Linked DNA regions of Homo sapiens: regions 1, 3 and 4 are each linked to region 2. Evidence: fine-mapped expression QTL. A gene starts in region 2. Each other region holds a variant in brackets. All regions are shown on one strand. Distances are between the middles of the regions.

Region 1 (2,736 bases), 180 kb before region 2:
CGGCCTCACAGGCTGGCTGAGGGCGGGAGGGGTGGGAGTGTGCCAGGCCCCCTCCAGCCCTGGGGCATAGTCCATGGGGGCCTTGTTCTCCCTCTGTCTCACGACATCCTCCACACCACTCCACACCCCTCTCCAGGAAAGACCCTGAACCCCAACTCCCAGGAGTCCCTTGAACCCTCATAACCTCAACAGACACACCTGGGAATGCTCCTCAGAGGAGCAGCTCGGGCACCCCAAGCTGAGGCCCGTGCCCACCTGGGCTGCGCCCAGACTCCGGTCTTGAACCTCTGGGCTCTCCTGCTCTTGGACAGCTCAGTGCATTCATTCAGCAGTGGGCCCTGCTGAGCGTCCCCCAAGCGCAGGGCCCTGAGGAACAGCTGTGACCCAGTGGACTAAGACCCCTGCCCTCCAGGGCCTGGGTGTGCAGCTGGGTGGGGGCGGGTCCAGCCACAGCATCCATCGGCAAGGGGGGAGGGGCTTGCAGGCAAGGTGGGGACCTGCAAGGGCATGGTATGCGCGCTGGGTCTGTGGCCCCCTGTGCAGGGGTGAGTGGCTGCAGGGCCGAGAGGAGGCTGTGCAGGGGTGAGAGGAGGCTGTGTAGGGGTGAGAGGAGGCTGTGCAGGGGCGAGAGGAGGCTGTGCAGGGTGAGTGGAGGCTGTGCAGGGGTGAGAGGGCATGCCAGTCCTGTGGGAGGTGGGAAAAGGGGGTCCAGGGTGAGCAGCGGGCTCGAGATGGGGGTGTCTGCTGGAGCCTCTTCCCAGCTGCCCAGTGCGTAGACCTCAGGGACACCTTGCCAGCCTCCCCTCCCCGGCCTTCCCTCCACACCCCAGGCTGTGCTGCACCCTACGGCCACCAGACGGCGTGCAGAGCCCAGCAGGCATACAAGGCCTGGCGGGTGGAAAGGGGGCCTGGCCAATGGGCTCATTTGTTGGCCGGAGCAGGCAGTCAATGGCCTGGGACAGCAGAGGTGCTGATTAAGATGCCACACTTGAGTTAGAACCTCCTGCCAGCGGTGATGAGCAATTGATCAGCTTGTCAGGGGAGGCGGCCCAGAGATGGGGAGGGGAGTGGAGGGGAAGGGAGGGCAGAGGGGAGGGGAGGGGAGGGGAGGGCAGAGGGGAGGGGAGGGGAGGCAGGGTGGGAGAAACAGGGCGGTGTGGGGGAGAGCGATGAGAAGACACAGGTAGATGAAGAGAGACAGAGACAAAGGAGAGGCATATCCAGCGAGCTCTTGCCCACAGCCCAAGCGTCATCCCACCTGTGACCCAGGGCTGGGAGGAGGGTTGGAGACCCTCGGGACAGGTGGATCCCAGCCCCTCAGCACCCCCTTCCCGGCATCCCCCCCAGCGGGCGGG[G/A]CATCCTGGCTTGCAAGTCTTTCTGCTGTTTCCATTTGTATGTAGAATTTATAGACTTTTTTGTTGAGCATTTTAAAATTTACAGAAAAGTAAGCAGAAAGTGCAGAGCCGCGGGCCTTGCCCTCGACCTGTCCCCGCTCCCCGCTTAGCCCCACAGTGCTCCGTTTGGCATCACTGATCAGCCGCAGGGCTCGCCCGAAGTCTGCACTGACACCGGGGCTCACCCCAGGTGTGCCACGTGGGTTCTGGTGCACACTGCTGTTTCCACCGTCGTGGCACCACACGGAGGGGCGTCACCACCCTCAGCACCCCTGCCGCGCCCCCAGCTCTCCTTCTCCCGACCTTGGCAGCCGCAGACTCTTCCTTTCCCTGTGGTTTTGCCTTTCCCAGAGTGCCTTCTGGTGGGACTCACAGCATGTGGCCCTTTCAGAGGGCGTCTTTCCCTTAGAAATGTGCCTCGAAGGCTCCTGCTGGTCTTTCCGGGCTGGAGAGCTCCTTCCCTGTGGTGCTGAGTAACATCCCCCTGTCTGGAGGTTTGGGGCTGATCTCCCAACCCCGCTCCAGGCTTGGCTCTGAAGAACAGAGCTGCCTTGACATCCGCATGGGGGTTGGTCAGTTTCTGCTCATCTGGGTGAACACTGAGAGTCCGCTCCCAGACCCCGTGTGGTGAGAGTGTGCTGAGTGTCCTAAGCTGTGCCCAGCTGTCCTGCCGAGGCTGCCCCATCTGCACGGCCACTGCCATCGGTGCCTCTTGCCACTCCCGCCTTCTCTCTGTGCTTCTCCGTTGCCGGCCTCACAGCGTTCTCCTTTCAGCTTCAGATGTTCGCCCTTGCCTGCCTTCCACAGAACAGGAATCTCCTGCCCCTGACCCCAGCTGCCTCTTGCTTGTCATCACCAGCTGTGGTCACAGCCGCGGGTCTGGTTGGTCACCCTGGACAGCGTAGATACAGTGTAGATACTGCCCACAGTCATGGTGGCCTGAGGGCTGCACTGTCCTGAAGTCAGGCGTGCACTCTCTATCTCTGTCTCGCTCTGTCTCTTTCTCTCCCTCTCTCTCCATTCATGTCTCCACCCCCACCCCATCTCTCTCCTGCTCACTCACCCCTCTCTGTCCTGGCCTGCACATGGCCTGTCCCCACACTGAGTGTCAACAGCATGATTTCAGGACCTTTTGTTTTGGTTTGTTTTTGAGACAGGGTCTCGCTCTGTCGCCCAGGCTGGACTGCCGTGGTGCAATCGCAGCTCCCTGCAGCCTTGACCTCCTGGGACTCCAGCGATCCTCAAGCAGGTGGGAGGTTCTGGGGGTGCCCCCTCTCCACCCCTGGGGCAGAGATCACCTTTCAGTCTCGGTCGGCCCCCACCTCAGCTTCCGGAGTAGCTG
Region 2 (2,736 bases):
CTTTGGCCGCCAGGTCCACCCCAGGGCCCTCACCAGCTGCTGGCGCCAACATCTGTGGAACAGAGTCGGTGAAGAATGGGGGCCAGGAATGCAGGATGAGGCCTGGGAGCAGCCAGGGACACCCTAGTTTGAGAGCAAAGGTAATGCAGCCCGTGCCAGCTTCCTGGGACAGCACTGGGGTGACCTGCCTGGGTGGCACACCTCTCGCCAGGGCAAGGGCTGGCTTGGGGCCTGTCGCCTGGAGACAGCAGGGTTTAGAGGAGGGACTGACCGGGTCAGGGGGCACCTCGCTGCCTGAAAAGGAAGTGACGAAGGAGTGGGCCAGGGTCCCGGCCACCGGCACACCTCGCAGCTGGCCCGCTAGCACGTTGCTGCTGCTGTCGAAGCCTGGGGAGGAAGGCGGTGGGATTGGGGGACCTCGGGCCAAGATGGGGCTCCTCCTTCCCGGCCCTTGCCTTGCCCCGCACCAGACACTCACCGCCCAGGTAGCTGTAGGTGGAGGCTGTCAGGCCCCCATCGGGGCCCTGAGCCCGCCTCAGGCCCATCTCTAGCAGCCGCTTCTCTGGCCCTGCGATCAAGCGAAGCCGCGCTGCGTTGGTGGCCACCAGGCTGTGGGGAGCCAAGAGTCAGGGGGTCCCAGGGTGAGGATCACTAGGCCACCCAAGACGGCGGTTACCTGGGGCCTGGAACTTCCAACCTGGGAGCTCCACCCTCACCCAGCCCCTCCTTACACCCTGAAGAGTGGGGGCGGGAGGCCAGTCCTGGGACCCCTGGGCAGCCAGCCCCGCCGCCACAGTCCAGCACGGAGCCCCGGCGCTGGGGGCCCATCCCATGCCCACGCTCCCTGCCAGTGGCCCGCAGCCCACCTGGCGTAGCTGACCAGGCAGAGCAGCGGTGTCTCCAGCAGCTGCACCACCAGGAGCGGCCCGGACACCTGCAGGAGCGGCACCTGCGGGGAGAGAAGTCAGCTCCGCGCTCGGCCCAGCACCCCGTGGCCGCCGCGCCGCCCGCTTACCCCTACTCACTCCGGGGAAGGCGAGGGAGCCCTCGGGCAGGGCTCGCACCGTCACCTCGGAGCAGTCGAGGGCCCGAAGGTGCTCGAAGAACGCAGGATCCGTGTCTGGGGGCAGCACCGAGGCCAGGAACTGCACGTCTGGAAACGAGGTAACTGCGCTGAGACCAGCGCGGGGACAGACCGGTCGTGGGACATGGGGGGTTCCACGGGGGGACAAGGACTTCCACCGGCCATAGGTGGGGGTTTCTGCCGGGCGTGGGGGGCTCGTCGCGCGGACGGGGGACTACCGGCGTCCCGCAGGCGGAAGGCGCGCAGGAAGCGCACACAGTCGCGCAAGCCGGCGGCCAAGGCGAAGGCGCCGCCGAACGGGCAGCGGCGGAAGAAGAGCTCGAACTCGGCGGCGTCCCGCGCCCGGCCCGCGCGCCAATAGCCCAACGCCATGGTGGCCTGGTAGAGGTCAGTGAGCAGCGGCCGCGCCGCCGCGCGCGCCTCGGGGTCCTGCTCCGCCGCCATCCTGCTCCCGACGTCCGGACTCCGCCCCGCCCCGACCCCGTGACGCGCCCCGGCCTATGGCGCACTCCCTGTGGGGCTTATCGTGCCGTTTGGGAGCGGCACGGGACTCGATGGAGGACGGGTGGGGCTAATAGTATCGGCGCGCCGAGAGGGGCTGAAACAGCTGGACCCGGGATGGGGTGGGGGATGTCACCCAACTCCTCTCGGACCCCCCAACCCCACTCCAGGCCCAACGGCCTCTTTGGAGCGCAGCCCGGTCTTGGTCACCAGAGGTGCCCCCAGTCGCTCGTGTCTCTGCCCTTTGGCCGGGCAATGAGGTGCAGCTCAGGACTTGCCAGGCGGCGGAAAGGGTGGAGGACAGACCAGCCAGACTCCACCCCCACCGACCCAGAAGACAACCGCTGGCCAGCAGCCAGCTCCTGCCCTGGGCCTGGGGAGGGAGGCCAGAGGCTGCCTTAGTTAGAGCTTGAGCAGCCAGGCTAGGACGAGGCAGCCCAGATGGACGCAAATGTCGCTTGGAAAGAGCTTGGCACCCAGGAAAGGGCGGCGTGGGGCAGGGGGGCGCATGCCCACTGTCGGCTGGCACCAAAAGACCTTTTGTGGCTATGAAGGCCCAGTGTCCCTCAGTGGTGGCTTTTATGGGGTCCTGCAGTCCAAGCCCCACAGGAAACTTTCTAAAGGTTTGAGGGCAAAGTCAGGGGCCACTACCCAGGGAGAATCCATTCCCCTGTGGCTTGGGGCCCCGAGGACAGAGTCTGACCAGAAGTAATCAAGTAATTACACCCCATCCTCTTTCACCCCAATGCAAACACGGGTGGTCCAGGGGAGGGAGTGTGGCCACCCATGCTGACCACATACGGCTGTCAGGATGCTGAGGCACAGCTCCACAGAGCCCAGGCAGCCACGTTCTGGCCACCCCAGAACATCATGGGAGGGGCACAGTCCCTGGAGCAAGGGGCAGGGATTCCAGGAATGAATGAGGTGAGGGGAGGGCCGGGACAGCACATGACAAAGGGCATGGCAGCAGGGCCGGGTGCTACTGGGACTTCTTTCCTGGACAATTCCAGGCTTGCACGCTTGCTCCCATGGGGACAATGCCAACAGGAGGCAGAGTGGTGGGGTGGTGGCCTCTCCAGATAGTGACCTAACAGTTTCTGTTTCTGGCTTTTTAAACCCCCTGAACTGGACTTGCTTTTGCAATGGAAAGA
Region 3 (2,736 bases), 180 kb before region 2:
GAGCCTCCCGGGGTCGATCGTGGCTGGGCCAAGCCAGACGCCCTCTGAATCTCTCCTGGACTGGCGGTGGCCCCTGTCTCTACAGGCAGCCCTCCCGCGGCCTCACTCTGCCCGCTGCCAGGTCAGCATCCCCAGCCTCTGTGTGACAGGGAAGCCCAAAGCCGCCTGCTGGGGCTCCAGGGAGGGAGTTAAGGCCCCTCAGTGACTGGACTGAGGCAGAATTGCTCCTTCTGTTGAGCCCCAAATCCCACTGCCAAGATAGGGTCCCAGGCCTGAGGACCTCCCGCCAACACCAGAGCCCCACGCATGGGGGTGCTCCCACTCCGGCCTGCCCTGTCCCGGACGCCAACCCAGCGAGGGTGCGGAGTGCAGGGCGGGCGCAGACAGCGAAGGCCTGCAGTGGCTGCCTGCCAGGCTGGGAAGCTCCAGTGGCCTGAGGGTCCCAGATTCCACTGCCATCGAGGGAACTCCCTCCCCGCACCCCCAGCATTGACTCCTCTGTTCCAGGAGCTGGACCCTGACTGTATGTGGCGCCTGCCTCCAGCCCTGCTCTTCCCAGAGCCCTCCTGGGTCTGGCCTGGGCCAGGCCTGCCCTCCAGGGACTCCCACAGGGTGCTGGGCGGCAGGGCCCCGCCCATGCCCTTCTGCTCAAACCTTGGGTGCTCTACCCTCCCACTGTCCCCTCCTGGACTGTCACTGTTCCTCCTAGGGGGCAGTGATGGAAGGGGCCCACCTACCCATATGTCCCCTGGTTCCCTCAGTCACCCCGACCCTGGCAGGAGGGTTAGGCTGGCCTCGTGAGCCCCAGGACAGGCTGTCCTGAAACGGTCACCTCCCAAGCCCAGTGTCCCACTCAGAGCTGGGCCTCCATAGAGGACCCCACAGGACGGCTTGATTACTTAAAATTGTGATTACGGTAAAATGTGTTACGATTTCAGCCATCTCTGAGGGTGCACCTGAGTGGTGTGAAGCGCGCCCACATCCTCGTGCCTCCAGAATCTTCCATCTTCCCAAACTGACTCTGTTCCCGTGAAACACTCGCCTCCCCAGCCCCCGTCCCCACCCTGTGAATCGGAGCCTCAGAGCCTTAGGTCACTGGGGTCACAGCATGTGTCCTGTGCCCACCACCTTCGCTCAGCATGGGGTCTCCCCAAGGGGCTCTGGCGAGGGGCGGGCATCCTTCTGGCTGGGCAGGTGGAGGGGCCCCTCACCCAGGAAGGGTGGCGGAAGCCAGAGAGGCCCTGAGGGTGAGGGTTTGAGGGCGGATGTGTGGGGGTGGGGCCGCAGTAACTACAGGCCAGCAGCAAATGGACAGCTCACAGCGGCCGGCAGAGAGCATTTTTAATGGTCCCTAAAGCCCTCAGCCAGCCAGCGCTGAGCTCAGCATCCCCTCGGTGAGCCTGGGAGGGGCGTG[G/A]GGCAGCCCGGGACCACCTCAGATATCTCCCACTGCCGCCTCTTCCCTGCCAGGACCCCCAGAACCCACCCAAGAACTCAGGGGCAGGGGACAGAGCCCTGCGGGTCCCCAGACCCCGGTGTTGATCGTTCCATGCTGGGCCGGAACTGCCCTGCCCTTGGGGACTCTGCAGGGATATTCGGAAGCTCCGCCAGCACCCCCGCCCTATTCGTCACAGGGCCCATTAGGTGCTGACAGTTGCTTCCCCATCTGCCTGGCTGGGGCGGGGCCAAGGCCCCAGGGGCCCATCCATCTTGGACCCTGGGGTCTTCCTCTTCCTCCTTGGTCTGGGCTGGAGGCCTCTGAGGGTGGCCTCCCCCAACCCAGACTCCGGGGTGGGGGCAGGCGTCTTCCGAGAAGGACAGCAGGGAGGAAGTGTGGGAGGAGGCGGCTCCCTGGCCAATAGGGCAGCGCAAGGCAGTCCCAGCACCATCACAGTCCAACCCTGGGGGCACCAGAACCCGGGGACTCCTGCTTGGGCTGGGGGAGCCTGGAGCTGATTTGTTAGCTCTCCCACCCCAACCAAGCTCATTCAGCTGGGGCTTTGGGCCTCAGCTGCCTATCACCTGGGCGGGAGGGTTCGTGGGAGGCCAGCTAGGCTCCAGGCAGCCCAGACAGGGTCCAGCCACCGGCCTTGTGGGACTGGGTGCCAGGTGTGGGGGAGGGAGCCAGCAGCTCCCCGGGGTTCCCCTTGGTTCAGCACCCAGGCCCAGCTGTGGGTACTGGGAGCCCAGGGCTTCTAGGAGCCTCCTCTGGGCCTGTGGGGAGGGTCTGGCAGTTTCTTCACTCTTCCCAGAGGGTGTGGGCAGGCCTTGGGTGCAAGAGATAGCCTGGCCCGGCACTGCAGCTGCCCTGGGGTCAGGACTGCCTGGCAGGCTGTGGTTTATTTATATGACCAGCTTATTTATTTATAGGGTTCTTGATGGGAGGTGCGGGCCCTGGCCTGCACCCCAGAGATATGCAAGCCCCACCGCAGAGGGGCAAGGGCGTACCCCTGGGCCATAGCCAATGCCCACTACTCCTCCGGGAGGCAGTCCTCAATTGCACACTCCCCTCCCGAACCCACCTCCTCCCTCGGTGGGGAAGCAGAGGCCACAGAGGTGAGCGTCACTGGAGGCGTGCCAGGACACAGCGCAGGACACAATGATGACATCAGTCTGATGTCACCACCTCTATTGAGCCCTGGCTCCAGGCTGCCCCCCTGTGATCCTGCTGGCTGTGGCTCCGTGAGGGTTGGGGGTGTCAGGGGCACTGGAGCTGGGCAGGGCTGAGGCAGTATGGAC
Region 4 (2,500 bases), 700 kb before region 2:
GAAAGGGAGGCTGGTGGCCAGGCTGGGACCCTGGGTGCAGAGACGTGATTAGTTGATGGCTCTGAAGGTGAGGAGGGGGAACATGCTGGGCCTCAATATGAAGCTGTAGACCATCTTTATGTCCTCTTGGGTTAGTGTCTCCACCTGGAGGTGTTTCAGCACCTAGGACAGAAGCCGGGTTTCCATCTGGCTTGGTCCGCAGCCCATGCACGTGGTGCAGCCTTCTCAGACCCTCAAAGTTGCAGAGATTATGCTGAAGGGGGAACAGCAGCCTGGCCTCCAACCTGTTTCATTCCTGACCAGCCCCACCTTACAGCCCAGGCCCAGAATTCATCCAGCCCAGGTATTGCCCAAGCCCCACTATCCTGTACAGGCTCCACCCGACTTCCCCAGTTCCCACCTGACCCGGTTTAGCAGCAACCTCACCCAGATGGTACGCTCCTCACCATACCAACTCCTGCCCAGGACCTACACAGCCTCAACCTGGCCCAGGTTCTCCCAGTACCGGCTCTGCCCAGTCCAGGAAACATGCAGGCCACTCCCACTCTGCCGAGGCCAGTCCCACATTGCTCAAGCCCCGCCCATGCTGCCCAGACCCCGCCCAGGCCCCTCCCCAGCCCGGGCCTGCTCACATGGTGCAGCAGCAGCAGCATCTCTGCCTCTGCCAGGCGCCGCCCAAGGCACTGGCGCATGCCAAAGCCAAAGGGCACGTGGTAGAAGTTCCTGCCGGAGCCCCTGATGTCTAGCCAGCGCTGGGGGTTATAGCGCTCAGGCCTCGGGAACAAGGCGGGGTTGCGACCCAGAGAGTAGAGGAACACGCGCACCAATGTCTGCGGACGGTGCAGAGCGGGGATCAGGGAATGACTGGGGAGGGAGGTTCTCAGCTCGAGGGGTGTGGGGCTCACTCACCCCAGCTGGGATGTGGTAGTTCTGAAGCACCAAGTCTGAGCTCGCCACTCGCTCCAGAAACAGACCCACAGGGTAGAGCCTGGAGGTGGGGGCATCCATAGAAAGGGTCCTCAGCTGGATGGGGCTTCCTGTGCTCTCTGCACCCTTCCTACCGAAGAACCCGCAGAGGTCCCAGATCCATGGGAAGCCCAGGTCGTAGGAAGTGCTTCCTTGCACCTGCTGAGCCCGGCCAAACCTCCCCTAACTTAAGCAGCCCCGAGCGCAGAAGGACATGCTCCACGTTAATCCCCAGGGCGTTGAAGAGGGATTCCAGAGAAAGAAGAGCTCCCTGTCCTTGAGGGGGAGGAAGAGCAGGTGCAGGGGAATGGGCTGCTGGGTGACGCTGTTTATCAGCCCCAGATTCTGTCTGCCACCACCCAGTGGGGGCTG[C/T]TCTCCAGCAGGGGGCCAGGGCCACAGGGAGGCCTCAGCCAGCACCCACCGCAAGGTCTCCTTGAGGGCCGCACGCAGCAAGGGCAGCTCGGTGGTTGCCTTCTGGGGATGTTCACTGATGCTGGCTGCGGCGGCCAGGCTCTCCTGGCGCAGGGCCTGCTGCACGTTGGGGTTCCGAGCCAGCTCAAAGAGCGTCATCAGCAAGGGAAACACCGTCTGCAGGAGACACAGCTGCAGGGTCAGACCTTGCACAGGAGGACTCAGCCCCCGGGACACCCCTCCCAGGACAACCTCCCTGTGAGGGGTGCAGACATGCATACCCTGAGAACGACAGAGCCCAAGACTTCAAATCCTAATGCCCATCCAAACCCCTTTCCCTGAGTCCTCCACAGAAAGGAACCCCCCATTCCAACCATGGCAACCTGCAAACGTGTTTATCACATCACAATCCCAAGTAAGAAATGTGGGGCCCATAGCCTGGGGATGGGACACGTGGGCGCCGTGTGACATTGGCAGGCAGTGCCTGGGAGGCAGGCTTGGCATCACCCTCTCTGGGTGGGGCTGGTTGCCGGCCTGACCGTGTCCACGCTCCCTGCAGTGAGTTCCATAGAGTTGGCCTTGATGGCATCTGGCGACAGTTCCGCATTCAACAGGAGCTCCGCCACGATGCTGGTGTACTGTTGAGGGCGGCTGAAGGCCAGTTCCTGATAGATTTTCTGGATACAGTTGTCGCCTATCCGGGGAGCGGGAGGCAGCCCTCAGACTTTGGTGCTGGGAGACATCCTTCAGTGTCCTCCTCCTGCCCAGACTGCCCCGACACCCAAGTCTCCCTGCTCTCATCCCAAATTCTCCGGATCAGCCCAGCCCAGCCCCAGCCTCGCACCAATCTCCCTGGCAGGAAGGTGAGGAATCCCCGACCCCTCCCTGTGGCCTCCATTCCCCACTGGGTGGTGGAGAGGGAGAAATTGGGCCCCCATGGTGTCCCTTCCCCATAGCACTGCCCGGGTCCCTGGCCTCACCGTACTGGAAGATGCAGTCCCAGGCCTCAAAGTGCTCCTTCCACACCTTGGGGCTGGTCCAGCGAGACAGGCTCCTGGGCATGAACATGAGCTGGACGGTGGATTTGAACATGACCTCCAGGGCATGGAGGAAGTTCAGGCTG

Evidence for each region.
Region 1: its variant is fine-mapped to the expression of NAPRT in fibroblasts (GTEx, PIP 0.98).
Region 3: its variant is fine-mapped to the expression of NAPRT in whole blood (INTERVAL, PIP above 0.99).
Region 4: its variant is fine-mapped to the expression of NAPRT in aorta (GTEx, PIP 0.98).

Annotation. Positions count from the first base shown.
Region 1 is chr8:143,400,488-143,403,223 of GRCh38, forward strand. No RefSeq gene overlaps it. Among named protein-coding and RNA genes, the nearest start is that of MAFA-AS1, 6.3 kb to the right of the region's middle. RefSeq lists enhancers at 16-663, 664-1,311, 1,312-1,959, 1,960-2,606 and a silencer at 810-986. The variant G/A (reference allele first, on the strand shown) is at 1,356.
Region 2 is chr8:143,576,791-143,579,526 of GRCh38, forward strand. NAPRT (nicotinate phosphoribosyltransferase) reads right to left here and starts at 1,540. Exons shown (of 13, transcript NM_145201.6): 1 at 1,303-1,540; 2 at 1,026-1,153; 3 at 867-949; 4 at 479-609; 5 at 272-387; 6 at 1-52. The coding sequence starts at 1,528. RefSeq lists enhancers at 948-1,855, 1,856-2,736.
Region 3 is chr8:143,396,614-143,399,349 of GRCh38, forward strand. No RefSeq gene overlaps it. Among named protein-coding and RNA genes, the nearest start is that of MAFA-AS1, 10 kb to the right of the region's middle. The variant G/A (reference allele first, on the strand shown) is at 1,415.
Region 4 is chr8:142,874,325-142,876,824 of GRCh38, forward strand. CYP11B1 (cytochrome P450 family 11 subfamily B member 1) reads right to left here. Exons shown (of 9, transcript NM_000497.4): 4 at 2,358-2,500; 5 at 1,917-2,071; 6 at 1,388-1,554; 7 at 910-988; 8 at 633-830; 9 at 1-162. The coding sequence ends at 49. Among named protein-coding and RNA genes, the nearest start is that of CYP11B1, 4.2 kb to the right of the region's middle. The variant C/T (reference allele first, on the strand shown) is at 1,339.